Homo sapiens: one gene and its partners. The protein of the gene in region 2 interacts with the protein of the main gene of each other region in a pairwise test. Each region holds a gene or a part of one and is shown on either strand. Other genes may lie near its edges.

Region 1 (8,355 bases), on a different chromosome or scaffold from region 2:
AACTTCCCAGGAGCAACCACCAGTTACAACATATTTTTCCAGAAAATTTCCATGCACACTCATGCAAAGAGACACAAACAGGAACATAGTTTAGACTTTCTATAACTTGCAGGGTTTTCTGTTTGTTTTTTACGTAAACATGTTGAAGATGAGTATCTTTCCATTATCAGCACAGATGGTCTGCATTATTTTTAATATCAGAATTCCCTTCCATTGTGTGGCTGCAACATAATTTAACCAGTCCTATACTGAATGTTCAGATTGAAGTTTTATGCTTATGTGCTATTATAAATCCATATATATACACATACATACATAAACATACATACACAAAAGTTGACATACATTTATGTATATTTGCAAAATTATCTGTAGGATAACCTTTGGATATCTGTCTACCAGATATATAAAGGTAGAATTGCAGGGTAAGGGACTTTGATGAGTATTGCCAAATTGTCCTCCAAGAAAATGTCTCAGTTTAATAACCCACGAACAGTGTTGACCAGGCGCAGTGACTCACACCTGTAATCCCAGCACTTTGGGAGGATGAGGCGGGCAGATCACTTGAGGTCAGGAGTTTGAGACCAGCCTGACCAACACGATGAAACCCTGAATCTACTAAAAATACAAAAGTTAGCCGGGTGTGGTAGCAAGCACCTGTAATCCCAGCTACTTGGGAGGCTGAGGCAGAAGAATCGCTTGAACCTAGGAGGGGGAGGTTGCAGTGAGCAGAGGTTGTGCCACTGCACTCCAGCCTGGTGACAGAGCAAGACTCAGTCTCAAAATAATAATAGTAACAGTTGTATATAAGTCTGAGGATTATAAAACACTTTCATCTTTAACTATCTGATGAGCAGAAAATGGTATTTCACTGACTTATTTGCATGTCTTAAATATACCAGTTCTTAATAGTTTGCCTTTTTTATTAAGGGGAAAATTCTTTATTCTTCATCCTACTCTTCCCCTCCCATGACATCTCCTCTGCTCCACTTCTACTCTCCTTCTGCCTCTACTTAAAAGCATCTCATCCTCCTAGAAAGGCTCAAGGTCTAGGAATCTTCAGCTACTCCCAGTCCTTCATCCTCCCCATTCAGTCACCAGTTCTGCCTCAAAGTCTTTTCCATCTGCCTCCGCCTTTCTATTCCTCTAATTCAGGCTCTTGTTAATGCTCACTTGAATTATTTAAGCAATTTACTGCATCTCCCTGTCTCCAGTCCTTTGCCCTGATTCATTCTACCCCTAGAATTATAGTATTGAAACACTGATATGATCTTATTACCCACTAATCCAACATTTTGATGACTCCTCCTTGCTCATAGAATAAAACCTAAATTTCTCAGTCTAGCACTGTCAGACCTTTACAGCATGGCCTTGTCTGTTATTCTAAATTCTCTTCATCCTCTACTGAGACCTGACATATAGATCTGCTTGATGTTCCCTAAACTAAAAACATTCATGCTATTATCTTCTCTGTCTATAATGTTCTTCCTTTCACATACTGACTCAGCCTCATGCATAATTTCAACTCAAATTCTACATTTTACAATCTTACAACATGCCACATTTAGAACTACTTTCCTAATTCCCGTAACACTGTGTTACTTAAGTTACTTATCAGTCTTCTTCGTATTCAGATCTCTTATGTGTTCATATGCATACACAGGAGTTTCTGGTGAGCATTAACTACCTTATTTCTATTTTGTATACTCCCAGGTACCCAGCACAGCATTTTCACATAGATTGTACTCAAAATACACAGAAGAAACTATAAATATCTATTGAACTGATTGTCTTCTGAAATATTTCCAGTTGCCTTTTGACATGCACAAAACTACTAAAATAAATATTCCAATATAAAAATGCATTACCTGTTTGTTAGCAAAAATCAGGAGCAGAGCATCTCGGAGTTCTTTTTCCGTTAACAACTTTGCAAGTTCGCTGTGTGCTTCACTAATTCTGTCTCTATGACTGCTATCTACAACAAACACAACAGCTACCCAAAAAAAAATAAAAAAAACAAAAATAGTCACTTGCTAAAGTTCAGTAAATGAACCAAATATTTAATGATATCATTATTATGTTATGGTTAGAGTTTGTCTACCATCATTATTTTCACACAGAGGGTGCCTAGTATGGCAGGGGCACCTACAAATAATTAACAGTATGATTTCAAGTAGTTTACATAACTTCTCAGGTTTAGTTTCCCCATCTAGGAAAGGATTTACAACACTTGCTCTATCAAATGCAAATTGGTCTGTATATCAAATAACTTTTTACATAACGAATTTCAAAATATGCCTCATGATCCTCTACCTATGGATGCTACTTGTTCTTCGAATACTACTTTTCTAATATTTAGTCTTTGAATAAAAGACTAAAAGATAAAAACCATCACCATTTTTATTTCTCCAAAGTATTATGTCTAAGTTAACTATCTCCAGACTTTCAACCATTCCTCATATTCAAAATTTCATTTTTGTAGGGCACAGTGGCTCACACCTATAATCCCAGCACTTTGGGAGGCTGAGGTGAGAGGATCACTTGAGCCCAGGAGTTCGAGACCCCTGGGCAATATAGTGAGACCTTATCTCTATTAAAAAAAAATTAAAAATTAGCTGAATGTGGCCGGGCGCGGTGGCTCGTGCCTCTAATCCCAGCACTTTGGGAGGCCAAGACGGGCGGATCACGAGGTCAGGAGATGGAGACCATCCTGGCTAACATGGTGAAACCCCGTCTCTACTAAAAATACAAAAAAATTAGCCAGGCATGGTGGTGGGCACCTGTAGTCCCAGCTACTCAGGAGGCTGAGGCAGGAGAATGGCGTGAACCTGGGAGGCGGAGCTTGCAGTGAGCCGAGATCGCACCACTGCACTCCATCCTGGGCGACAGAGCAAGACTCGATCTCAAAAAAAAAAAAAAAAAAAAATTAGCTGAATGTGGTGGCATATACCTAGTCCTAACTACTTGGGAAGTTAAGGTGGGAAGATTGCTTGAGCCCAGGAGACAGAGGTGACCATGAAATGCAATCATGCCACTGTACTCCTGCCTGGGCAACAAAGCAAGATTCTGTCTCAAAAAAAAAATACATTTTTTCTATTAATTATGGCTCATAATAATATCAAAAATCCCAAAGTAAAAATAATTATTCAGTCTCTCATCTTGGTGGAAAGCAGAATAACATACAGAATAAGCGGCATGAGCGTAAGCATTATGTTGGGGTCTATGAGGCAGAAGTGTAGAGTAAGACCCAAATGTGACTAAAACCTATGTAGAGTATAGATATGATATAATACGGTTTGGTCAAAAGCAAGCTACTGTAAGTTCTTCTGCAGGTAATAACTATTTGTGAAAGAAATGTGGGAGTGGGGCTATAGTGAGATTATAATGGGATAAATGTTGAGTTTAACTGAATTCAGCAGAATCATACAACATAAATTCAACTCTATACCACTACGCTACCAGCAGTCACACCCATATAATACTGGTAATATACACTCTCTGTTAAGAGAAGCAAGAGTACTCTTAACTGACTACATATCTAAGCTACGTATGGTTTTTATTCTGTAATAATGGTATATCAGGAATAAACTAAAAGTATATATCCTAATCTTTCTACTTTCATTTTTTACAAGTTAAGAAACTGGCCACAGGTACTTAAGTATACAGTCAACGACTTAATCATAAGTATCAGCTTTGCTAGTTAAATCAGTACACTGAAAACTGTCATCCTAAAAATGTGAAAAATTAAATGTCATTTTTAACTCTCACCTTGAGTATTGAGGTAATAATGTTTCCACAATGGTCTTAATTTGTGTTTTCCACCTACATCCCAAATAGTGAATTTTAGATTTTTATATTCTACAGTTTCCACGTTAAAACCTGTTTTAAAAAAAAAGTTACTTTTATACTATATTTGTATTTACAATGAATGACATATCAAACACAGACAACCCCCAGTTTATAACTGTGACTTATCAAATTATCTACATGCAGCAATATCTACTGAAGCCTAATCAACCCCATTCCTACTCCTACGTGGTGAATGTATACCTGTAACAGCTCCTAGCCCTCTAAACCTCCACCAAGGTCCTTAGGACCTTGGGATCCATGTACCTTCCAGCTCTGTTCCACAACTACCCCCCACCCCACACCCTCAGCCAGGATCACCAATCCTCTATTCCTTCCAACTGTCCCACCAATACTCTGTTTCTTCTTTTTATCCCCATCCACATTTCAATCCCATAGTCATACAATCTTGCATTTTTTCTCTGAGATGCTGATATCTTAGAGCCAGAAAAGAGCCCACCACCATGACAGATCAGTATCAAATAAGACCCCAAGAACTTGGCTGTAAGCTAGGGTTTGTCTATTAAGGTAAAAACCAATATTCATACTTACCAATTGTTGGAATGGGCTGCATGAATTCATCCTGTTTTAACTTAAACAAGATAGTAGTTTTTCCAGCACCATCCAATCCTAACGTAACGACCCGAATTTCCATTTTTGGTCCAATGTGAACTCGATTATCCTACAATTTAAATATTTTTAAATATGTTTGACATGCAGTTAGAAAGTAATAGCATTTAGCACCTTTATTATTTCTACATCTCCTATTCATTCCTCAACCATTGCAATCTGAATTGTATTCCTCAAAATACTGAGTCTGATCTCAAGAAGATGAAATCCTTCCCCATGGCTAAATCTTGCCTTAGTAAAACTGACCACTTTGTCTTTGTATAACAGAATATACATACCCACTTAATTTTCTCAGATTTTCTAACTCAAATGAATCCTCTAAATCTTAAACATGTTTTTATGCTATACTAAAAAAATCACAATAAGGGTAAATCAATTAAAATGAAAAAGTGCTGCTCAATTCCCAGAAATTTCTACTATGAATCTGATGTATATCCCTCCAGACACTTTCCATGCACATACTGGCCAACATACACAAACAAAACAAATTTTTTTTTAAAAAAGTATTACCCACACATTGAAACTAATGTGTTTCACTCAACAGTATATTATGGAATCCTGTCAATACATATTGACCAACCTTTTTCTTTTAATGGCTTCTTTACATTTCATAAACCACAATTTAACTAAACCCCCAACTGATAGATTTTAGGTAATTTCTGATTTTATGATATTACAAATAATGCTATAATGAACATTTTTATATATTACTAGCTGCATGATTTCTCTGCTTCACTTCTTTCATCTCATAAAAGGAGGATTAAAATAGTACAAAATTTACATAGGATTCTTGAAAGGATTAATTTTTAAGAATACATATAAAAGTCCTTACAACAGTTCCCAAAATATATGTGTTATTTTTGCTTACTCCTTTGAGCACTCTTTGCTTGGATTTTATGATACAAACTTTTCCTGGTTTGGTTTTATCCCATTTTTGGATGTTCCTTCTAATTTTTCTTTAATCCAGCTCTTAAATGTTGGTATTCTTGAGGGTCTATATGAGGCCTCCTTCTCATTCTACATATTTTCATTCTCTTCATGAGCTTTAATTACCATGTATATTATGGCTCCAAATCTATACTTAAGTCCAGTTATACACCTCAGAAATAAAACAATATATGGAACAGAACTACTTCTGTGAGAACTCTAGAGAACAGTTAAGAAACTACAGCACCCAGGCCATAAAACCAAGAAGGCATTCCAGTGAAAGGGGTAATAAAATTTGGGGCATTCTGTGCACTCATCCCTGCCCTTCCCCATATCCAACATAGTGAGGATGAGGTGCAACCAGGAGGAAACTACAAAATACTAGCAAACTGAATTCAACAACACATTAGGCCGGGCGTGGTGGCTCATGCCTGTAATCCCAGCACTTCGGGAGGCCGAGGTTGGGGGTGGATCACCTGAGGTTAGGAGTTCGAGACCAGCCTGACCAACATAGAGAAACCCCGTCTCTACTAAAAATACAAAATTACCCAGGCATGGTGGCGCACGCCTGTAATCTCAGCTACAAGGAGGCTGAGGCAGAAGAATCGCTTGAACCCGGAAGGTGGAGAATGCAGTGAGCCGAGATCGCGCCATTGCACTCCAGCCTGGGCAACAAGAGCGAAACTCCGCCTCAAAAAAAAAAAAAACACATATTAAAGGGATTGTACGCCATGACCAAATGGGCTTTATAACTGGAAGGCAAGAATTATTCATCATCAATCAGCATAATACACAGAATGAGAGAAAAAAAGCACGTAATCATCTCAATAGTTGCAGAAAAAGCATTTAACAAAATTCAATACCCTTTCATAATAAAAACATTCAACAAACTAGGAGTAGCAGGAAACTGCCTCAGTTAACATACACCATATAAGAAATGCCCACAGCTAACATCATACTCAAAAAACTGAAAGCTTTTTCTCTAAGATAAAGAACAAGAAGATGCCCACAGAGCAATTAGGCAAGAAGAATAATAAAAGACATCCAAATTGTAAAGGAAGATGTAAAATTATATCTCTTCACAGATGACATGATCTTGTATGTAGAAAACCCTGAAGAGTCCACACAAAAAGACCTATTAGAATAAAGTCAACAAAGTTTCAGGATATAAAATCAACATGAAAATCAGTTGCATTTCTATACATTAATGATAAAAATCCCAAAAGGAAATTAAGGAAACAATTCTACTTAAAATAGCATCAAAATTATACTTTCAGGGATCATTTTTATAGTTTATGACTAAAGAAGTTTCTCTGAACATGTACAGAAAAAAAAGTTTAAGATACTTAGGAATAAACTCAACCAAGATGGTGAAAGACTTAAGATACTATGTTGGTGCAAAAGCAACTGCGGCTTTTGCCAGTACTTTTAATGGCAAAAACCACTATTACTTTTGCACCAACCTAATATGTAGGCGTACACCTAACCAAGATGGTGAAAGACTTGTACACTAAAAACTACAAATATTGCTAAAATAAATTAAGACATAAATAGACATTCCATGTCCATGGATTGAAAGACATAAAATATTAAGATATGAATAACAGCCCAGGTAATTTATATAGATTCAATGCAATCCCTATCAAAATCCCAATCATGTTTTTTGTGGAGATAGAAAAAATTAAGCTAAAATTTATAAGGAAGCTCAAGTGACCCTGAATAGCCAAAACAATTTTGAAAAAGAAAAAAGTTGGAGGACTCACACTTCCTTACTTCAAAATATATTACAAAGCTAATGTATTGTTCTGTTTTTGCACTGCTATAAAGAAATACCTGAGACTGGGTAATTTATAAAGAAAAGTTTAATTGGCTCACAGTTCCACAGGCAGTACAGGAAGCATGATGCTGGCATCAGCTTGGCTTCAGGGAAAGCCTCAGGAAACTTACAATCATGGTGGAAAGCAAAGAGGGAGTGAGGCATTTCACATGGCAGGAGCAGGAGCAAGAGAGAGGGTGGGGGAGGTGCCACACACTTTTAAACGACCAGATCTCATGAGAACTCACCTATTATGGCAAAGACAGTACCAAGGGGGATGATACTAAACCATTCATGAGAAACTGCCCCCATGATCCAGTCACCTCCAACCAGGCCCCATTTCAACATTGGGGATTACAACTGGAAATGAGATTTGGGCAGGAACATAGATCCAAGCCATATCAGCTACAATAATGAAAACTATGTGGTACTGGCATAAAGATGAGACATACAAACCAACAGAACAGAAGAGAGAGCCCAGAAATAAACCCTCAGGAATAGGGTCACATGATCTTCAACAAGGGTGCAGGACCACTCAATGAAAAGACAGTCTCTTCAATAAATGATGCTGGGGAAACTGGATATCTACATGCAAAAGGATGTTATGTATCTTACACCACCTAAAAAAATTAACTCAAAATGGCCATAAACTTAAGACCCCAAACCATAAAACTCCTAGAAGAAAAAACAGAGGAAAAGCCTCATGACATTGCATTTGAGAGTGACTTCAGGGATACACGAAAAGCACAGTAAAAAAAAAAAAAAAAAAGCAAAAATAGACTACATCAAATTTACAATTTTTGTGCATAAAATGACAAAATCAACAGAGTGAAAAATTGACCTATGAAATGGGAGAAAATATTTGAAAGTCACAGATCTGATAGGGAATTAATATCCAGAATATACAAAGAACTCCTACAATTCAACAACAAAAATAGTCAACCCAATCAAAAAGTGAGCGAAGGACAGAAATAGACATATTCAAGGCAATATACAGATGGCCAACAATTATATGAAAAGATGGTTAATGGCACTAGTCATCAGAGATATGGATATCAAAACAAATAAGGTATCATTTCAAACCAATCAGGATGGCTACTATCCAAAAACAGAAAATAACAAGTGTTGGTGAAAAT
Region 2 (4,762 bases):
ACAGTTGAACCCCTCAGGGTGCTGCAGTCCTGCCTGCCTCTCTCACCTCCCATCTGGACATTATTTTAATGTAAAGGCATGGCTGAGACACAGAAATCCCCTTGAAATGTATCATTGCGGTCCTCATTGACTCCCATTGTGTGCCTTAATGGTGGGCCCAGTGGGTGGGGGCTGGGAGGGGTGGAGCAGGTGCATGGGGCAGCGGTGCCCAGCACCTGTTCCAGTCACAGCTGCTGGCCCACTGCATGGCAGGCCCCTTTAATCCGGGGATATCGCATGTACAGTGCCCCCCTCGGCGCCCTTTGTCCCCGCCGGCCTGGTGCCGATTTCACACTTGCCAGGAGTACCATGAAGGCGTCTGGGGGGCGAGGGATCCAAGGAGTGGGGGTCTGTGCCTCCTGCGTGTGCACACAGCCCCCGCCCCCAGCCCATCATGTCCTAGAATGTCTCCTTCCCCTTTTGTTTGGGTTCAGGTCTCATCACACTTTGGGCACTTACTGTACAGGAGGGTAGTGCTCAGGACTTCACCAACAGCCCTGGGAAGGGAAGGGAGGTGCTGTCCTAACTCTGGTCTTACAAATGGACTCCAGCCCCTTTTCCAGATCTCCAGAGTCAGCCCTTAGTTCACAAGGGTGAACTTACCCTTCTCATTCACATGAAGACTTAGAATGCAATCAACAAACCCTTCAGGCGTGGCGTGTGGAGGCTGCTGAGTAATGGCAGAGTGGAGTAGTGCTCAGGCACCCCTCCCCCAATCCTCTATGTCCCCCACCCTTTGGAGTGGCGAGTTTCCATTTCTGCCCCATGAGACTGAGTCCAGCTCTCAGGCGCTCCATAAGTCCCTATTGAATGCATGGGTCCCATTGGAGCCATCCTCTGGACTCTCTCCTACCCTGGTAGCTCAGTGTGGCACCCTAGGCACCCAGGAGGTGATGGAATGAATTCACTCTCAGCTCTTAAATTCCATCCAGCGCTGGGATTTCACAGGCGGGCCCTGACCTTGCGGGCATATCAGACTGGGCGTGAGGGGATTGGAGAATTGCATGTTTTTTAAAAAGACTATTCAGTATTATGGAATAGTGTCTAGCACTTAGTAGGAGCTCAGTAGATTAAAAAAAAAATTATAGACAGGGTCTTGCTTTATCGCCTAGGCTTGTCTCAAACTCCTGGCTTCAAGCAATCCTGCCTCACTCGGCCTCCCAGAGTGATGGGATTACAAGCGTGAGCCACCACACCCAGCCTCAATAGATTTTTGTTTAATGGGTTACTGTTATGACCTTTTATTTGGAAAATGCTGCATCCCCCAGAAAAAAACAAATCAACATTATTGGTGTTTTTGGAACTATATAGCTTTTTGGTTGGAGCAGGGATTGTTATGAGGCATGAGTGAGGGGGCAGACTCCTCTGAGGCCTCTTTAATTTTTAAAACAGACTTATTTATTCTCTAAGGGCTTGTTGAGGATTTACTGGGCACCCAGCTCCATGTGCAAGACTTTTCCCAACACAGCCTTGGCCAGGCAGATGGTGTGTCAGGGCCACAGGTTTCCGTAGCCTCTTGGGTGATAGAAAGGGGCCCAGGCCCTGGGCTGGGGCTCAGAAGGGACTCAAAGGAGGCCCTTGCCCTTATGGGACTCAGCCTGATTGGAGAACAGACAAGGAGATTTGGGATTACAGCGCAGGAGGTGGGGTGGTGAGGAAAGCAGGCTGCTGGCCGGGCCCCAGGAGTGGCCTAACCAGCTTGGAGGTGGGGGTGGGGAAGCCTCTTAAGGCTGACTCTGGCTTTGGCCCCCAACAGAGTAAATCAAGGAATGACTCCAGGACTGATGGTAAGGACACCAGTCACGTCCTCCCTTGACTGAAGGCAGTAAGGGCAGTAGGTGAAATCAGAGGCTTTGGGGTCCTGCCAGGGGAACCTGAACATGCTACTTCTGGGCCTCAGTTTCACTGTCTCTGAAATGAGACCACAGTAGGATCAAGTGACAGTAGGATGAATCAGTAAAGGTGTTGAGTCATTGTTGACCACTTCGCACGTCCCTGCGGGATGTGGATGAGTACCCTACCTTCTGTCACTTATCAACCCCTATGAGTGGGGGGTGAATAGCCCCATTTTACAGGTGGGAAAATGGAGGCTCAGAGAAGCCAGACAACTTGCTCAGAGTTGCACAGTGGGAAGCAGCAGAGCTCCGTCAGGTCCCGGCCTTTGGACCCTGGCTGTGTGTTTGACGGAGGCCTGGCTTTCCTGGGATCATGGGATTCTTTCAGGGTTTGGGGTATGCGGGGAGGGATTCCCATCACTGCCAGCCGTTGTCCCACGGCTCACTCGGCCTTTCTGGCGTTCTCTCCCCAGGCGAGAAGCCCTTCTCCTGTCCCCACTGCAGCCGTGCCTTCGCTGACCGCTCCAACCTGCGGGCCCACCTCCAGACCCACTCAGATGTCAAGAAGTACCAGTGCCAGGCGTGTGCTCGGACCTTCTCCCGAATGTCCCTGCTCCACAAGCACCAAGAGTCCGGCTGCTCAGGATGTCCCCGCTGACCCTCGAGGCTCCCTCTTCCTCTCCATACCTGCCCCTGCCTGACAGCCTTCCCCAGCTCCAGCAGGAAGGACCCCACATCCTTCTCACTGCCATGGAATTCCCTCCTGAGTGCCCCACTTCTGGCCACATCAGCCCCACAGGACTTTGATGAAGACCATTTTCTGGTTCTGTGTCCTCTGCCTGGGCTCTGGAAGAGGCCTTCCCATGGCCATTTCTGTGGAGGGAGGGCAGCTGGCCCCCAGCCCTGGGGGATTCCTGAGCTGGCCTGTCTGCGTGGGTTTTTGTATCCAGAGCTGTTTGGATACAGCTGCTTTGAGCTACAGGACAAAGGCTGACAGACTCACTGGGAAGCTCCCACCCCACTCAGGGGACCCCACTCCCCTCACACACACCCCCCCACAAGGAACCCTCAGGCCACCCTCCACGAGGTGTGACTAACTATGCAATAATCCACCCCCAGGTGCAGCCCCAGGGCCTGCGGAGGCGGTGGCAGACTAGAGTCTGAGATGCCCCGAGCCCAGGCAGCTATTTCAGCCTCCTGTTTGGTGGGGTGGCACCTGTTTCCCGGGCAATTTAACAATGTCTGAAAAGGGACTGTGAGTAATGGCTGTCACTTGTCGGGGGCCCAAGTGGGGTGCTCTGGTCTGACCGATGTGTCTCCCAGAACTATTCTGGGGGCCCGACAGGTGGGCCTGGGAGGAAGATGTTTACATTTTTAAAGGTACACTGGTATTTATATTTCAAACATTTTGTATCAAGGAAACGTTTTGTATAGTTATATGTACAGTTTATTGATATTCAATAAAGCAGTTAATTTATATATTAAAAAGTCTTTGGTGTCATAGAGGAGTGGGTATTTTGAAAGGTCTTTGGTAAGGGAGGAGGGGACAGGAATTCCTGAAGCTTAGATATTTCTGACACAGCCTTAAATCTTGTCCTTGGAAACATCATAGGGCTTTGGAGTCCTGGGTGTCACTGTCAGGGACCTTATGAGACTGGGTTTTCCCGTTGGCCTGGGTGTCCTGTCTGCTGCTGTTTGGGTGAGCCAGCGGCATCCATACGAGCTCTTCACTATACACTGTGGCTTTTTACTTTCTCGTTCTTGAATTTTGAAGTTGATCTGGCCCACGGAGTGCAAAGCTGGCTTCCTGGGTCTTATCAACTAGACAGGCTGCAAAGCTCTGCCCCAGCACTGCAGGTCTTTTGGGGTGGGATTGTCCGCTTCCCCCAGATGCGAGTGGAATGCGACCAAGGAGACAGAGGATGTCCTTCCTGTTTCCAAGGGCTCCAGGCCCCCTTGGGCCTCCTTGTCAGTCCCACACCTCCGTCTTGCTGCTGGGTACCAAATGGCCTTTGATGCGAGGAAATTGGCTGGCTGGAGCCAGTAGGGTGAGAAGCCAGGCCAAAGGGTAGGGGTCACTCAGCTTCCTGCTCCGAGGACGGCGGGACGGTCAGCATGCGTCTTGGGCTAGGGTAATTCATTCCCCGCCAGCCGATGGTGGTGACCTCACCACTGGGGGCCTCTTGGGGCCAGGAGAAAATGAGTGTCCTTTTTGAACACAAAAGGTGCTGGAGGTGCCAGTTTCCTGTGAGGAGCTGAGGCGTCCCAGAGCTTCGGAGCCCCAGAGTCAGGCTGGGGGTGGGGGGAGCTTCATGTTCCAAAGGAGAGATGATTCTTTCTTCTAAACAGGAAATGGTGACCCGCAGGCCGGGAGCAGCCCTTAATGACTTGCAGCTTTCCTCCCAAAAGGAAAAAAAAAAACGTTCTCTAACAATCGCCAAATTGTGGCCTGCCTCCCTGAAGGGAAGTTAGGGAGTTGGGGGGATGGGGGTTGGGCATCCATGAGCTGAAGGCCTACTGTGTCCTGGGTCCCTGCGGGTCCCTCTAGGTCGTCTCCATCCACCCACAGTAGGTGCTGAATGAATGATTTCATGACTTCACATAATCCCTGGGGGTCGGGCCTCCGGAAAATGAGGCACAGAGGTGGGCTTGCCTGAGGTCACCAAGCCCGGCCCCTCAGGTCATCCTGGGAGTTCGGTAGGCTGGGCTCATGCCGCTGACTCTCAGGGCACCTGGAGCAAGGCTCTCTCCCTCTGGGGGCCCCAGTTTCTGTGTCTATAAAACAGGGTGACAGTAGTGCCTTCCTCTCGGAGACTGTACAGAGGCATTCATTCATTCAGGGGTTTCGAGGGTACCATATGTGCCAGGCCCTGGGGTTACACCCGTGA
Region 3 (9,290 bases), on a different chromosome or scaffold from region 2:
ATAGGAATGTGGGGTATGATAAGGTTTCTCTTCAAATAGCCTGATCAATCCTTTATTCTTTAATTCACAGTGCCCCTCCCCACTTCACTTTTCTTCTCTTCTCTTTCCTTTCTGCTTTTGCTACATGCCTAGACATGTCACAGTACCAGGCGTTATCAGTACCAACTCACATTCCTTTCCTTATTTTGGAAGAAGATTAGTTATCTAGCTCATCACACACACCCCTTCCCCATCTCCCCTCTCTCCCTCACGTGCCCACCTTATCTAAAGAAAGTTAAAATGTTTAGCCAACTGAGTCTAGTTTAGATTGTGTGGCCGACTCCAGCCAATGGGGAAAGGGCAAAGGGGTAGGATTTGCGTCAGGAATAAAAACTTTCTTCCTCCTTTGTTCTAGTGTGCTCTCATGGCGACTGGCAAAGAAGAAGCACCCCTCTGCACAGAAATAAAATTGCTTTGCTGAGAAATCCTTTGTTTGAGTGCTCGTCTCCCTTAAGATTCTGAGCTTTATTTCCAACAAGGAAGGTGATGGAGGTACCTAGATTGAAGAAATGAATGGTCCCTCTAGGAAACAAGCAAGGCTTTTTGCTTTTGCAAACCTCTCTTCTTTAAAGGTTACCCCTCTCCCAGACTCAGTGCTTTCTTCCTCTGCCATCTCAGCAGACAGTTCACAAGCTGCCTCTTTTTGTTTATGCAGAGCAGCTTCAGAACTACAAATTAAACTCACCCAGACACAATCAATCTATTCTTCTCAAAGCCTCCCATTCTATGCTCCCACAGATTGCTCCACTCACCTTCAGTCCAAAGCAGAGGAGTCTTGAATCAGGGGAGAAGAGTGAAGGCAGGGCAGGAGCCGGTGTAAACCAGATTCACTCACCAAGCCAGAGGGCTGGTCTCCACAAATGAGTTTCCCCACAGGAGCTGAGTGAGAAACGAAAGTTAAATTCTCAGAAGTGAAAGAAAACAAAGGAAGCTGAACAAGAACTTACATAACAATAAACCCTGGGGAAAGTAATGCTACATTATGTTCTAGCATCTGCTGTACTGGCAAGGCACTCAGTCACTACTTCCTTATTCTTACTGTGGTTTACTCAAGCAAGAATATTTGAATAAAAAGAATGTGAATTACAGTTATACAGCTTGCCTGAATACTTAGAATTCCAATGCAGTCCTATAATTATTAGTCGAATTTATCTTATATTTAAGACCTAAGCCAGGAAAATAAAGATCCAGAGACTTGGGACCTAGCTTCTTGAAATGCAGTCTGACGAGGAAGATACTCAGTTATAAAGCTCTACAAATTTGGGCTGACAAGATGAGTATTAGCAGCTGACATTGTGAATGGTAAAAAAATTATTTTTATAAATAAAAGGATCTTTAGTGTGAGCCCATTGAAAAAAATGTTCTCAAAATGTCATTAAATCTTAAGAGTCCATCAATTAATTATCACTTCCTGCTCCTAATCCAGACAGACCAGATGAGGATGGATTCCAGAGAGTAATAGAGGTAAAACTGTGTCAGTGTCATGTTACCCAGCCACTGAGGCAGGTGAGAACATGGAAGTTAACAGATGATGCTGTTTAATTATAATCATTCATTGAGTTACTCTCATGCCTTCATAATTTTTCCACTTTTCCCTGCTTCTCTAAGAAAAGTTTGGTCATTTTTACACAATCAATTAAAAAGCAGCACTGAAACATGTTATACGTCATGCACATACTTCTGTACCCTGTTGTCTATTGTATTCTTGTTTAACTGCATGTGCCAGATAATGCCATCAAAAACTGATGGAGGCCTGTGGTGTCTCATGCCTGTAATCCCAGCACTCTGGGAGGCCCAGGTGGGTGGATCACTTGAGTCCAGGACTTCAACACCAGCCTGGGCAACATGGTGAAATCCCATCTCTAAGAAAAATTAAAAAAAAAAAAATAGCTGGGTGTGGTGATGTGCACCTGTAGTCCCAGCTACTCAGGAAACTGAGATGGGAGGATGGCTTGAGCCCAGGAGGTGGAGGTTGCATTGAGCCAAGATTGCGTCATTGCACCATAGCACTGCAGCCTGGGTGACATAGTAAGACCCTGTCTCTACAAAAAACAAACAAACAAACACCACACAACACATACACACACACACCCAAAAAAAAAGAAAAAAAAAGGCAACTCATGGAGCTTCCATAACATGGATCCCTGACTGACACTATGGAGCATGGCCATCTTCATACTTTAATCAATGATACACATGTAGGATGACTGAGAAATCAATGTTTATTATTTCAATAATAGATATTTTGGTATTATTTGTTGCTCACAGAATAATAAGCTAATCCTGGCTATAAATTCTTTCCTACTCACTTATATCTATGAGGACCTTATTCAATCAGCTGAAAGCCAGAATAGAAGAAAAAACTGACTTCTCCCCGAGAAGAGGGAATATTACCAGCAGGCAAACCTCAGGCGTGAGCTATAACGTTGACTCCTTCTTGGATCCAGAGCCTCTTGGCCTACCTTGCAGACTTTGGATTTGCCAGTCTCCAGAATCACCTGAGACATTTCTCAAGTTTCTTTCCAAATAAATTCATAGTTTAGTGGTTCTATTGCTATGATGAACCTTGACTAAGACAGGCGTGAAATTTTCTTATTTCTTCTTGAAGATAAATAAGCAAGAGATGTAATTTTAGGTATATTCCATGTTTGAATAGAATATCTTGTTGACATTTGTAGGGGAGTGAGCGCTCAGTGAGTGAATGTGTTTTTTCTGGAGTGCACAGAGTGGAGTCCGAGTGTCAACCACAATGGACAAAGTGAATGAACTCATTTATCCAGAGACCTGTTCTCTGTCCATTATTTCTTCCCTTCTCAGCACTTCCATAGATCTCATAGCCATCCTTTTATTCTCGTCTGGCTTTGAACATCTGAAGTGAACTTTCATCCTGGTCTGATTTATCTCATGAAGTATTAATTGCAGCTGAGAGAAAACAGTAGTAATATTAGGTCCTGACAAGATACCAGAAAACGTGGGCCAATAGAAAAACTGAATGCACCACACACAGTTTATCACCAGAGTAGAGCATGTTGGCAGGCTCCATATTCTAACCTATGTTCTAAATTGTAGAAAAAATATATTATTGTTGGAGCTCTGTGTTTTCTCTGTAAACCCTTTTTTTTTTTTTTTTTTTTGAGACGGAGTCTCGCTCTGTCGCCCAGGCCGGACTGCGGACTGCAGTGGTGCGATCTCGGCTCACTGCAAGCTCCGCTTCCCGGGTTCACGCCATTCTCCTGCCTCAGCCTCCCGAGTAGCTGGGACTACAGGCGCCCGCCACCGCGCCTGGCTAATTTTTTGTATTTTTAGTAGAGACGGGGTTTCACCTTGTTAGCCAGGATGGTCTCAATCTCCTGACCTCATGATCCACCCACCTTGGCCTCCCAAAGTGCTGGGATTACAGGCGTGAGCCACCGCGCCCAGCCTGTAAACCTTATATATCCTGCTTTCCTGCTTGAAAAGGAATCAAATGAAATATCTCTACCTTTGGGTCCATGGATATTTAACATTTTTCTCTTCAAGAAAAAGAGCAAAATAAGAGTAAATATGGTTAGAGTCTGAATAATACTTAGGAAGAAAACAGAGAGGATATTTTAAAAAATCGTTTAAAATTTGTTTAAAAATTTACATAATTACTTTTTTTTTTTTTTTTTTTTTTTTTTTTTTTTTTTTTTTTTGAGACAGAGTCTCACTCTATTGCCCAGGCTGGAGTGCAGTGGCATGATCTCGGCTCACTTCAACCTCCACCTCCCGGGTTCACGCAATTCTCCTTCCTCACCCTCCTGAGTAGCTGGGATTACAGGCATCTGCCATTACACCTGGCTAATTTTTGTATTTTTCGTAGAGATGAGGTTTCACCATGTTGGTCAGGCTGGTCTCAAATTCCTGACCTCAAGTGATCCACCCGCCTTGGTCTCCCGAAGTGCGAGGATTACAGGTGTGAGCCACTGCAAATGTAATCATTACATAATTATTACTAATGCCACATAATTATTACTAAATAACAATTAGTAATATTAATTATAATTGTAACTATTAATAATTGTAATTATTAATAATACTAATTATTATAATTATTACTATAATTATTACTGCCACATAATTATTACTAATGCCAGAAGAATATTTGAATTAAACTAGGTGACACAGCAGTTATCTTTACAGCAAGAATAGAACAGAAATGTGACATCAAGATATTCAATTAAAATTAGATTAATAGCTATATATCTTCATATCTATTTAAATATTACTCCTTATATACACCATATTCTAGTAAATCTGAGACAATAAAGAACAAAATGCAAAAGCCCCCTACCTGATTTCATGAAACAGAAAGCTGCGGGGGTACAGTGTGGAGGGGGTATGAGGTTACTGATGATGGAATTAAGTGATAACAGGCTGCCCACTGCAGTGCTCCCCATTGCCTTCTCCTGAGGCATTTTCATTTTCAAACTAAATACTCCTCTCTACCAATGATCCTAGTTCCAGTGTGGACTTCCTGAGATGTTCCAGTAAGGGAAAGCTTAGAAGGGAGGCTATGGTACATGGACCACAGTTCAGCCTTTTGGACCAGTTTTGCATAGTAACCAGAAGAGAAGAGAGAGGAAGGCCTGGCCCTGCTCAGGGATGCAATAGATACTTTGGAAAAGACAACAGCGGGAAGTTGGAGAGTTCTTTGAAAGTGAATAGTTGAAAGAAATAATGTGGTATTTCTTTATCGCTCTCCAGATAAACTTCTTTTTTTTTTTTTTTTTTTTTTTTTTTTTGAGACGGAGTCTCACTCTGTCGCCCAGGCTGGAGTGCAGTGGCGCGATCTCTGCTCACTGCAAGCTCCGCCTCCCGGGTTCACGCCATTTTGCTGCCTCAGCCTCCGGAATAGCTGGGACCACAGGCACCCGCCACCATGCCCGGCTAATTTTTTATTTTATTTTATTTTATTTTATTTTATTAGAGATGGGTTTTCACCGTGTTAGCCAGGATGGTCTCGATCTCCTGACGTTGTGATCCGCCCGCCTCAGCCTCCCAAAGTGCTGGCATTACAGGCGTGAGCCACCGCGCCCGGCCCTCTCCAGATAAATTTCTAGCATCCTGTCCTCTCTGGGTTTCGGAGTCTTAATAATATGACATCTCTCCTACCTGCAGCTCCTTTTCTGTTCATAGGTCCTATAAGATTTTTAAGTCCAGACCAGAAATCTACTGCAATTCTCTAAAAATCATTAACTTTGTTCTTCCTTCTCTTTGGGCCATATCTGTCACCCAGAAGCAGAACTCAGCTGTGAGATCAGGAGCAAGAGGAGCACATTGGAAGAATTTCGAAAAAGGGCACCTTTTCTAATTTTTAATACTTGGCTGGGTTAATCTGAAACTATGTCAGAAGAAGTGGCATGATAACAAGATCCTGAGACTCAAGAGAAAAGGGAGATTGAGTGGGAATGCCTCTAGTTCCCACGGCTCCTCCTGTGAACAGCACAGCTACACGGCCCGGCTGATTCATTCAGAGGGCGGGACTCACCAGGCCCTACGTGGAGAAATGCCATTGGCCCATAGTTTATCTTTCACTTTCCTGCCCTGAGTGTGAGCAAGAATTTCCTGCGGTTCCTCTAGGAAAATTCCTTTGTGCAGATCAGGCCCGTGGATTGGTGAGTGAATCCTAACCACGTCTTCCCTGGCCTGTCTTCACTCTTCTCCCCAGAATCACCACTTCTGCACTGGTGTCTGAAGGTGTATTGAGTGATTTTGTGGAGGGCAGAAGTAGGAAGTCTTTGGGACAAAACTGTATTTACCTTGGTGAGTTTAACTTATCTGAAAAGCTGTGCGGGGGTGGGGAAAAGACACAGTTCACAGACTTCTTGCTGCCAGAGCTGACTGAGGGGAACAGAGCCGCCTGGCGGGCAGGCAGATTTGAAAGAAGGGAGAGCTTTAAAGTGAAGGGCTTTGTTTCCCGAAGGCTGGTTATTTTTCCATGCTGACTCTCTCCCCATCCCCTCCCTACTCTATACTTTTTAATTGAACTTTGCTGTAGAGAGCCAGAATTCTCTCTTTCAGTGTCTTCTCCCAACAACAAGGGCAAAGACAGGGGCCTTGGAATCCTAATGATTTAATGCCTATTAGTTTACTAATGTAGTGTTTCTGCATAACTCTACAGGTCAGTTCTCATCACCTTGGCCTGGCTCTGTGACATCAGCCTTCATGGTGTGACAGCTGTCCAGTTCTGTAGTCCTGTCATTGTCACTGTAAATGGAGTTCTTTCCCTAGTTCATATTGGTTACAAAGATAATGGGAAAAAAGGCAAGCAGGTTTTATTTCTTGCTAGGAGTGGAGAGTAAGAGAGCTCCTTCTCTAAAGCCCCCTCCCCCAAAACAGTGGAAAGCATTGGCTTTAAAAGAACTGAGTACGGGGAGAGAAAGGAGTGTTAGCCTATAGGGTGGAACTCCAGTTGTGCCACCTCTGTTTATAAACACATGTCTTCATACTGTGTCCGGAATTGGTGGGTTCTTGGTCTCACTGACTTCAAGAATGAAGCCGCGGACGCTTGCAGTGAGTGTTACAGTTCTTAAAGGCGGCATGTCCGGAGTTTCTTCCTTCTGATGTTCGGATGTGTTCAGAGTTTCTTCTTTCTGGTGGGTTCGTGGTCTCGCTGGCTCAGGAGGGAAGCTGCAGACCTTCGCGGTGAGTGTTACAGCTCATAAAGGCAGTGTGGACCCAAAGAGTGAGCAGTATTAAGATTTATTGCAAAGAGGAAAATAACAAAGCGTCCATAGTGTGGAAGGGGACCAGCGCAGGTTGCCACTGCTGGCTCAGGCAGCCTGCTTTTATTCTCTTATCTGGCCCCACCCACATCCTCCTGATTGGTCCATTTTACAGAGAGCCGAGTGGTCTGTTTTGACAGGGCACTGATTGGTGCATTTACAATCCCTGAGCTAGACACAAAAGTTCTCCAGTCCCCACTAGATTAGCTAGATACAGAGTGTAGACACAAAGATTCTCCACATCCCCACCAGAGTAGCTAGATACAGAGTGTCGATTGGTGCATTCACAAACCCCGAGCTAGACACAGGGTGCTGATTGGTGTGTTTACAAACCTTGAGCTAGATACAGAGTGCCGATTGGTGTATTTACAATCCCTTCGCTAGACATAAAGTTTCTCCAAGTCCCCACCAGAGTAGCTAGATATAGAGTGTCGATTGGTGCATTCACAAACCCTGAGCTAGACACAGGGTGCTGATTGGTGCATTTACAATCCCTTAGCTAAACATAAAGGTTCTGCAAGTCCCCACCAGACTCAGGAACCCCACTGGCTTCACGCAGTGGATCCTGCACCGGGCCGCAGGTGGAGCTGCCTGCCAGTCCTGTGCCATGCCACGCACCTGCACTCCTCAGCCCTTGGGTGGTGATGGGACTGGGCGCCGTGGAGCAGGGGGCGGTGCTCGTCAGGGACGCTCGCGCAGCACAGGAGCCCAAGGGGTCGTGGGGAGGCTCAGGCATGGTGGGCTGCAGGTCCTGAGCTCTGCCCCGCGGGGAGGCAGCTAAGGCCCGGCGAGAAATTGAGCACAGCAGCTGCTGGCCCAGGTGCTAAGCCGCTCACTGCCCGGGGCAGCGGGGCCGGCCGGCCACTCCGAGTGCGGGGCCCACCAAGCCCACGCCCACCCGGAACTCCAGCTGGCCCACAAGCGCGGCGCGCAGCCCCGGTTCCCGCTCGCCCCTCTCCCTCCACACCTCCCTGCAAGCTGAGGGAGCCAGCTCCGGCCTTGGCCAGCCCAGAAAGGGGCTCCCACAGTGCAGCGGTGGGCTGAAGAGCTCCTCAAGTGCCGCCAAAGTGGGAGCCCAGGCAGAGGAGGCGCCAAGAGCGAGTGAGGGCTGCAAGGACTGCCAGCATGCTGTCACCTCTCAATACAACCCAGGCACACAAAATGGTGGAGATTTTCTTGTTTGGTGTCGTGTGGGGGAGGGGGTAACTTAACACTCTAGTGATATGTTAATGATCTAAAGGCAATTAGGGATTGTCAGTTCCAGTATATACGCTGGTTCGGGGGTCTAATTTCCCCCTTGGATCTGGTCAGGGGTCAAGATCTGGACCATGCTGGGCAGTCTGGCTTCTTCTTAAGCAACTTTGTCTATACATAAAGGGAATAAAGAAAAACGTTAAGAAAAATAACTTTCCCAGTCATTTCATCAGGGCTTCCCTGGTGACAGCATCTGTTTGCCTCTACTAGGGCACCAAGTCCAGACTCAGGGAACTACTGGATTTTCTTAAAAATCATTAACCTTGCTCCTCCCTCTCCGTGGGCCGTATCTGCCCCCCAAAAGCAGAGCTTAGGTGAGATACGAAGAGCAGGAGAAGCATGTGGAAAGAATACCCAAGTAGCTGGGATTACAGGCACCTGTCACCAAGCTCAGCTCATTTTGTATTTTTAGTAGAGACAGAATTTCACCATGTTGGCCAGGCTGGTCTTGAACTCCCAGCCTCAGGTGATCCGCCTGCCTTGGCCTCCCAAAGTACTAGGATTACAAGCGTGAGCCACCACACCCGTCTGGTTAAGTTAAATATTAAAAGCTGAAGCCGGGCACGGTGGCTCACGCCTGTAATCCCAGCACTTTAGGAGGCCGAGGCAGGTGGATCACAAGGTCAGGAGTTGGAGACCAGACTGGCCAATATGGTGAAACCCCATCTGTACCAAAAATACAAAAATTAGCCGGGTGTGGTGGTGCGTGCCTGTGGTCCCAGCTGCTCGGGAGGCTGGGGCAGAGGAGTCACTGGAACCTGGGAGGCAGAGGTTGTGGTGAGCCGAGATTGTGCCATTGCACTCCAGCCTGGGCGACAGAGCAAGACTCCGTCTCAAAAAAGAAAAAAAAATATTAAAAGCTGATAGAGCCAGTGCCCTTATACAAAGGCTGGAATGTAACAGAAGCCCACTGAGAGTTTTGCCCAGGCCTTTCCTGGGCCTTGAAGCATGACAAGATAACGAAGGAATCGATTAGGACCTGTTTAGGATTAAACAAGTTTTATGGGGGTCTGAAGGAACTCCCAGGCCTCCACAAACAAGTTTATTGAGGGTCTGAAGGAACTCCGCAAACCTTAATGATTTAGCAGGAGAGACAAGATAAGGGTAATCACCCCAGCACCCGGACCCATCTAGATTAGGTAAATTTACTGAGGCACCAGAGGAAGGTCTTAAAACTCAGACCTTAGTTATAGATTTGAAGAAGTTAATCACTTATGTTTTTAGATGAATAATGCACACCTATACGTAGAC
Region 4 (8,741 bases), on a different chromosome or scaffold from region 2:
CCAGGTCATGCCAGCCCCATCTTACCCGTCTGGTTTTTGAGTTTGAACAAGCTCCTCCCAAGCTTCTGTACCAGATGTATCTCATGCTTCTTCTCCTCCTTAGATGTGCGAACCTGCCCAAAGCAAAGGGGGAAAAGGGTACTGGAGGGAGGGGCTGGTGAACGTCCAGAGACAGAGTTTGAGAAAGGCCCACCCCCCTTCTGCCAGTTTGTGATTTAGAAACGTGCATTCATTCAACAAACATTTACTGAGCATGTACAGGCCAGGTACAGTTCTTCATAGCAGAGATATAAAACAGCAAAGGACAGACAGGAGCCCTTCGCCCTGAGCTTTCCATTCTAGGGGCCTTTAAATCTCTGACTTTCAGAGCTAACCGAGACCTTTGATACTCTCTACCTCCTCCAGAAACACGAGCATAAAGAGGAGAGATGGCTTGTCCAGACTCAAAAAGCAAATTAGGGACTGAGGCAGGGCAGGAATATGGACCTCTGACAACCAGTCAGGCTAGTGCTTCCCAGAGAGGTGACAACCCCAGGGCATGTGTGGCAAGGACTAGAGCAGGGGTGTCTGGAGAAGAGAGAGTCAGCAAAGAGGGCAGTGCAGAAGAGCCATGCTGCATGTTCTGTGCTCTGGGGTCCCTCCAGGTGAGACCTGGGTGCCCAGCTCCCCATTTGCCCTTGGCATCAGGGGCCCCTAGCCCCTTTCTTCAGGGCCCCAAGAGGAAACTGGAGTCCAGGATTGACCAGCTGTAATCAGGGGACCCCACTGGACTCTTACCAGTGAATTGATGTTTTCAGTGAGTTGACTGATTATTGCGGAGCTTGAATCCAGGGCTACTGCTAGTTCTTGGTACTGGCTCTGAGGTGCATGCAGAGAGAAGGAGTTGGAGAAAGATTGTGGGGAGGGGTAGAGAGAATAATCATTAGGGCTGGTGGGGGTGTGTGGGCTGCCTCAGCTGGCAGAGGGGCAACAAGCCCCTGCTGTGGGAGGAGGTTGGAGGGCTGGCCTGCAGGGTCACTGCACCTCGGCCCAGGGCCTCTTACCTCCAGATCCTGCAGGGTAGTAGAGGATGCACGGCCCTCCCCGTAGATACCTGTTGCTGACTCCAAGAGATGAGAGTGCACATGGAGATGTTCTGTCCCCCCTCACTGTCTAAGCCCTCTGACTTCCTTTCTTCCCCCATCAACTGGCAAAAGCTTCTTTTCTGCCTATCTTGGAACCTTTTTCCCATAACTCCTTTGTGCCAACTTCTCTCGTGGTTCTTATCTCCCCACCATCCCACCCTGGGGCCCTTTCAGTGACTCCTAAAGGGACAGCCTGATGGCAAGTGGCTCTTCTCATTGGCCTGGCTTCCCCTTGAGACTGGGGATGAGGAAAATCAAACAGCAACGACCATTTCCTCGGTGTCCTGGGTGTTTGCAGCAGGCCATGTACTAAGGATTCACATAAAAGCAACAATAACGAATCTCATTTAAACTTCACAAATGGAAGTCAAAAAATACCACCTCTATTATACAGATGTGAAAAGAGAGGCCCAAAGACCTCAAGCAACTTGCCCTAAATCATATGCTAATCAATCCCTAATCAATTCTTAGCAGACGGAGAGGCAGGATTCAAATCCAGAATTCTTAACCAGTACCCAACAGTCCATCTACAATCTTAACAATTACCCTCTACTGCCCCTTGGGCTCCCTGTCCCCAGGAGCCTGGCCCGCCGAGACTCACATCCCCAGGTGAGTGGTAACCACCAGAAGTGAATGTGTCAGGGCTACTGCCATTGATTTTCTTTTTCCTGTTAGCTCCTGCTGGAATGCCAGGGCTCTTCCTCTGCCAATATGCTTTTAACTGTGGGAAAGAAGAGCAGTAACACTCATGAGAATGATCAGCCCCTACAGCCACATCCTCCTTTACAGTTTTGACAAAATACCCTTATATACCATCTGATGTAATGCCACCAACAACTGTACAAGGTGTTGTCACAATCACTTAGTGACTGAGAGGGATTGATATCATGGATAGAAAAAAAAAAAAAGAAAGATCAAAAAAGGCAATACTGGAACTTAAACTCAGTCCTCTGACTCCAAGCTCTGGGGTTTTGCCATGAATCAGCAGCTTCCAGGGACCAAAACCAGGGGCAGAGGTAGAAAAGCACACATTAAGCAGGCAGGAACTGTAGGCCGTGTGGTTTAGAGTCATACATCCTCACAGGTCTGCTAGCGTGAAGAAGCGTACCAGTACCTCTCACACTTTCATATCAATGTGTCCTCATGGCAGAAGGCAGCTTTTCTATTAAATCTGGGAATTTATCAGAAAGAGGACAACCCAAGCCTCATTTCAGAGCGAAGTCTGGTATACGCTTGGAAACCTATGTGTCTGTCATCCCTAAGTACATTAATGCATTTTCTCAAGAGAATCAAGGGAAAATGATGCTTCAGAAAGATGTCCCGCATTTATCCTGTGGCACTCAAAGTACCCCAGGTTGAGACGATATGAGGAAGATTCAAGCTGTCAAGTTCAGTTTCCCAAGATCTATTCCACAGAAGATGAGCAAATCTCACTTCAGAGGCCACTGACTGAAGGGCAGTCTGGTCCCAGAACCGTGGAGAACTCAGAAAAAAATGTTAAAGTCTCTCTGGAAAGTAGAAGCCTGGGAAAAAACCAAACCAAACCCATTCTCCCATTGCCACCCAGAGATACTGTGAACATTTTGAGCTCACAGGGGAAGTGTAGGCTTTTCCCACTGTCAATGTCTATGTTAAGGGAGTAAGGCAGCCTGAAACCTCTTGCTCCTAGGTCCCATAGTCTCCACTCCCCTTCCAGCTGGAAATTTGTGCTGCAACCAGAGGAACCAGAAATGGGGTGAGAAAACTTAGGGGACTGGGTTGTAAGATCAAAGGCCGGTCTTGCAGCAGTAATGACAGTTCCTAGGGGCACTGTGACATCATTGCATTCCACTCCTCCCAGGGGAGGGGACCACATCAGCGCGATGCCCGAGTCGCTGCTCCACGATGGGGGAGGGAAACACACGGTTTCGACCCAGGTCCTCAGAGACGCCAGCCCAAGAAGCCTAGGGAGGTCGAGCTTGGGGCAGCAGGAGGGGAGGGCAGAGTCTGCAGTAGGGAGCCCCGGGAGTCACCAGCCCAAAGCCACCCAGGGATGACTGGTGAGGGCAGGGCCTGGGGCTGGGGGACCCAGGTCCTGGGAGACGCAAGCCCAAAGAGCCCAGGGAGGTTGGGCTTGGGGTGGCAGGAGGTGAGGGCTGATTATGGAGCAGGGAGCCCCAGGAGTCACCTGCCCAAAGTCACCCTGGGGTGATTGGCAAGGGCAGGGACTGGGCTGCTTGCTGAAGGGGTGGGGCTGACTGACTAGGCTTTGGTTGGGGGAGCCCAGAGGGGCTGGGGTTGGGGGGCCCCATCTGGTATGCCTCAGGAGTGGTATGGACTCTGGCACCGGTCTTGTCATCGGAGGGGATCTGTGGCTGGGTTGGGGGCCATGACCTGGTGTGTTTTACCTTTTTCTTGGCTGCGGCCAATTTCCCCTGTTGTGTTTTTTCTGACATCGCGGGGTGGGGAGGGAGGCGGGGTTGGGGCCACATCAGCGAAATACCAGTGAGCACTGCTCAATGCCTCCAGTCACCTACCAGGCAGCTGTGCAACTGAGCCACAGGTGGCGTAACCAGGGCACCAATGGAACGCAGAATAGGGGCGTGGCCTTAATGTTCCAAGCCCATTGGTCAGTGAGAAAGATGAAAGGGAAAGGAGGCGTGGCCAGGCGCAGCATGTCCAGAGGGACCTGTAGCATCATAAGGAAAGCTGCCCATGCAACCGCTGTCCCCGCCCACTCAGAGAGAGGGGAGAGGCCGCCCACTCTGGGAGAGGGGAGGGGCTGGCTTTTGCTTTAAAAGCTTTAAAACTGTTAAAAATAAACTTTAAAAAATATATGTGTATATACTTTATATATGTGTGTCTGTGTGTATCTATGTGTTCCTCCAGAGCTGTCTTCATTATGCAGCTTCTATGCAAAGTCTATGATTTTGGCCTATATTTTTCATCTTCAAATGGAGCACAAGAATTACAAGTATTACCTTAACTGAGATATAGACCCTATAAAAATGGAAAATCCATAGCATTCTTGATGATTAATGAAGCTGACTATAGTATCCGACATTCCAATAACAGAGAATAATCACAACAATTTCTCTTTTTTGGAAAAATGTTTGTCTTATTCTCCTACATTATTGTTAAGATTTCTTTTAAAAACAAGAAACATGTCTAATATCTTTAAAAACACAAAGCTTTTGGGCCAGGTGCGGTGGCTCACCCCTGTAATGCCATCACTTTGGGAGGCCGAGGTGGGTGGATGACCTGAGGTCAGGAGTTCGAGACCAGCCTGGCCAACATGAAGAAACCCTGTCTCTACTAAAAATACAAAAACTAACCAGGTGTGGTGGTGGGTGCTTGTAATCCCAGCTATTTGGGAGGCTGAGGCAGGAGAATCACTTGAACCCAGGAGATGGAGGTTGCAGTGAGCCAAGCTCATGCCACTGCACTCCAGCCTGGGTGACAGAGCAAGACTCCATCTCAAAAGAAATAAAATAAAATAAAATAAGATACAAAATAAGTAGGAACACAAAACTTACAATTTAATAAGCACTTAAAGCTCTTTACTGGTTTAAAACAAATACAAGGCCCATTTTTCTAGAATCACCAGGCCACTCTAGGCCTTGCAAATGAAACTGAATTTCTCACTTGATACCTGGCTATGACTTGCAATCATGAAAACCAAGAATTGTGTTATGTCACTGTGTACTGCTTGTTACCTGAAATCCACACTAGGCTGGGATCAAGGGTTGAATCTTTCATGATTTTTCTCCATAACCTGTGTGCTTCTTATCCCAGACTGAACTAAGCTTTTTTCTAGAGTTCTACAATTTACACTTAATAGACAAGAGTGGTTCTCAAAATGTAGTCTATGGACTAGCAGCACCAGCAGCACCTGAGACCTTTTTATAAGTGCAAATTCTCAGGCCCCACCCTGGACCTGGTGAATCAGAAACTCTGGAGTAGGGTTCAGCAATCTGTGCTGCAGTAATCCCTCCAAGTGTTCAAGAACCTCTGGCATACAGCAGGTAGAAAAATGTGTTTCCTTCTGTAGGTCCAAAGCCAGGGTTACCATATGTTCTGCCTTGTTATGAAACAATGACATGCAATTAAAAGACAAGAATCTCCTTCCTACTCGCACCCTCCATCCAATGTGTTTTATTTGTATGAGTTCCATAAGAAAAACAAGCGGCAATCAGAGATTTAGTCTAAAAAGTATGTTTACAAGTGTCCGTTCTCATCCAGCCTGATCTCCTACAAAACCGTTTACATCCTCTTACATCTCAAGTTTTAAAAAAGTATCTTCACAATGTAAGACTCACGCACACTAGCAGTTCTATAATAAAACACCAAGTAGATCAGAATGTCCAACCTTACTAGAGAAGAAAAGTGGAATCATTGGCTATATTTTCAAATTGCATTCAACAGGAAATTTAAGTTTTGAATTTTTTTCACCTTTATACTTCCAAAGTAATAGAATTAAACCAGAATACGCCATTCTTTCAAAGCCTCTAGCCAGGCAAAGTTTTACTGTATTATTTCTTGCTTTCAATGGATATAAAGCAGATTCCTGGTAGGCACATTCTGTATACCTGCAAAGATGCAGAACTAAACAGTTCCATCTGTTCAATATTAAACCAAAAGTCCTGTAGACCTCGAATGGTGAGTGTAATACTTCAGCACTAGCCCAAAACCTCAAATATGAAAAGATACCAAGAACACCACTAGCAAACAAAACTAAACTCTCAGTCAGGAGCAGGAGCTGACACCTGTAATCCCAGCACTTTGGCAAGCCGAGGTGGGAGGATTACTTGAAGTCAGGAGTTCAAGACTAGCCTGGGCAGCATAAAGAATTCACATCTCCACAAAAATTTTTGAACATTAGCTGGGTGTGGTGGCACACAGCTGTAGTCCTAGCTACTTGGCAGGCTGAGGTGGGAAAATTGCTTGAGGCGAGGAGTTCAAGGCTGCAGTAGCTATGATTATGGCACTGCACTCCAGTCTGGGTGACACAGCGAGACTTAGATAATTACATTTTCTCCTGCTCCTGTTTACACTAAAATCACGAAGTTAAAAGGCTTTCAAATTTGGCAGGATAAAAATTAAGTGAAATGTGACTTTGGAGCTTGGCTAGTGAAAGAAAGAAAGAAAAAAAAGGGAAGAAGGAGGGAGGGAGGGAATAAAGAGAAAGAAAGGAAAGGAAGAAAGAGAGAGAGGGAAAGAAGAAAGAAAAAGAGAGAAAGAAAAAGAAAGAGGAAAGAAAGAGAGGGAGGGAGGGAGGGAAAAGAAAAGAAAGTAAGAATGGAAAGCAAGAAAGAAAAGGAAAGCAAGGAAGGAAGAAGAAGAAAGAAAGAAACAAGGAAAAGAAAGAAAGGGAAAGGAAAGGAAAAAGAAAAGAAGAAAAAATGAAATGACAAATTACTTACTGGGAGAAAGTTTTGTCACCTCAATGACAGATAAAAGGCTTGTATCCTTAGACTATAAAGAAATCTTTAAAATTACTGAGAAAAAAAAACAAATGATTTTCAACCGAAAATGGGCAATGGAGAAACTGGCACTTCTCACAAGAATAAAAATGGCCAGTGGCATATACAAAGATTCAAAAGCACAAGAAATCAAAGAAATGTCATGAAAACAATGAGATTTTCTGTATAAAGGCAGGAAAGATGACAAATGGAAAGGGGAACCTGGAGCTCTGTCCTTGTTGGTGGGAGTATAACCTGAGTCACTTTTCCTGGAGAATGATTTGAAAATTTCTATTAAAAACCCTAAAAATTATTTTCCTCCAGAAATTCTACTTCTATGAATTCAGTCCAAAAATGTTTGCTCGAGCCCATTAAAATGTGTGTATAAGAAAATTCACCTCTGGGGTGGCAGTGATTAACTTAATATACATCCAGCTATTAAAAATGATGATGCCAGGATATATTTACTGCCACAGAAATATGCCCAAAATATAGTAAGTGACAAAAGACTACATACTACGATTCTACTTTTTAAAAGGTTTATGTGCATAAAAACGTATAAAAAGCAACAAACCACAATGTTTTGAGTGGCAAATTAAAGATTTTTCTTAATATTTGTCATCCAAATTATTACAAAAAGAATGATTTCCTTTATAATGAGGGAGAATTGTTATTTTCATTTATTTATATTTAAATATCTTTTCTTTTTCTGATTTTGTTTTCTCCTGTATGTATCCCATGTAGGCTAGAATCCCTGCCTCTTGAGGTAAATCAGCCCATTTTTGGGAAGTGCGCTACAGAAAGCTGCCCCAGCTTCCTTTTAAGAGATCTGGAGACATTTTTTATTTCAAATTGTTTTATCGTTCTCAGATTATTTTGTTTAATATATGAAATTGAGGAAAAGACAAAGGAAAGGCTGACTCCCTACCCTCCTGGGGCTACTCTTCCAATTTTTGCTGCTATTGTTATATATTAATATTCACTGGGTACTAAAAAGATGGGCAGCCCCTTAGATCATTTGTTCTTATCTCTTTCTCATAATCCTACTTCATTCCTTCATTCACTTATTTTTAAAAAGGTCATGTGTACAAACACATGGTTCAGAAAATTTTTAAATATAACTACCTATAAAAGTATGTGGCCAAATCCCATTCACAGTCTTATTCTCCTTCTACAGCCAAACACTTTTAATTGGTTTCTTATATATCATTTCAGAATTTATGTTTGCAAATACACACGTATATTCTTATTCTACTCTTCTCTCTCAACACAAAAAGTAGCATACCATACATACTATACCATTCCTTGTTCCTCTTAAAACACACACAATATATGTGAGTTCTTCTACATGAGTACAGAGGTCTTTGTCATTCTTCTTTACAACCGCACAGTATTCATCGTTTGGATGTACCACAGTTTACTTAACCAGTTCCCTGTTGGTGGACACTGAAGTCATCCCTATCATACTATTACAAACAATAATGCCAAGCATAACCACCCACATACCAAGTTCATTTCTGAATCTGCCTTTGATGAAGCCTCTATTTGAATCACCACAAGGTCACAAGGCTGAAAAGTTAGCCAATTTTTTAGTTTTCATTATGTACAGCAGTATGTAGCAAAAGACTCCCTTGGGCAAAGCAAATGTGCTCTTTGGGGATTTACTGCATAACAATAAATGGATTAACACCAAGGAGAAATATTTCTATTTAACCATGCACATGTATGTATATAATACATGCATATGCATAGATAGTATACAATAAATCCATCAAAGCATTAAGCATTGTCTCAGTATGGTGGATCTATGGAGTGCTTTGTAGACAGCCCTCCTTGCCTATCAATTCTTTCTAGTTTCAAAACAGTGAATATGTACTATTTTTGCAATATAAAATTTCAATAAATGTTAACTCAAGCCAGGTACATTCCTTCAGTCTGTCCTATATTTGTATGGTGCTCCAGAGTGCTCAAATATCATTTCATTAAAAAAATTTACTTATTTTTTTTCAAATATAGAAACAGGCAGGGCTTTGCTCTGTTGACCAGGCTGGTCTTGAACTCCTAGATCCTCCTGGATCCTCCCACTTCCACCTCCCAAAGTGCCGGTATTACAAGTGGGAGCCATCCGGCCCGGCCGGCTTCATTTGAGAAATATTTCCCCAGAACTCCATATATT

Evidence for each region.
Region 1: the proteins of SNAI1 (region 2) and TRIM23 interact in binary tests that used the Homo sapiens proteins (3 or more experiments, as listed by UniProt).
Region 3: the proteins of SNAI1 (region 2) and TRIM5 interact in binary tests that used the Homo sapiens proteins (3 or more experiments, as listed by UniProt).
Region 4: the proteins of SNAI1 (region 2) and GOLGA6L9 interact in binary tests that used the Homo sapiens proteins (3 or more experiments, as listed by UniProt).

The regions. Positions count from the first base shown.
Region 1 is NC_000005.10:65,592,653-65,601,007, forward strand, and holds part of TRIM23 (E3 ubiquitin-protein ligase TRIM23), read right to left. Parts: intron 4,529-8,355; coding exon 4,399-4,528; intron 3,880-4,398; coding exon 3,769-3,879; intron 1,994-3,768; coding exon 1,869-1,993; intron 1-1,868.
Region 2 is NC_000020.11:49,985,525-49,990,286, forward strand, and holds the end of SNAI1 (zinc finger protein SNAI1), read left to right. Parts: intron 1-2,347; coding exon 2,348-2,532; 3' UTR 2,533-3,362; downstream 3,363-4,762. UniProt on the Homo sapiens protein: Involved in induction of the epithelial to mesenchymal transition (EMT), formation and maintenance of embryonic mesoderm, growth arrest, survival and cell migration.
Region 3 is NC_000011.10:5,681,401-5,690,690, reverse strand, and holds the start of TRIM5 (tripartite motif-containing protein 5), read left to right. Parts: upstream 1-5,616; 5' UTR 5,617-5,823; intron 5,824-9,290.
Region 4 is NC_000015.10:82,424,934-82,433,674, reverse strand, and holds the start of GOLGA6L9 (golgin subfamily A member 6-like protein 9), read right to left. Parts: upstream 3,860-8,741; 5' UTR 3,596-3,859; coding exon 3,512-3,595; intron 2,893-3,511; exon of another isoform or gene 2,781-2,892; intron 1,846-2,780; coding exon 1,726-1,845; exon of another isoform or gene 1,104-1,725; coding exon 1,044-1,103; exon of another isoform or gene 859-1,043; coding exon 778-858; intron 114-777; coding exon 26-113; intron 1-25.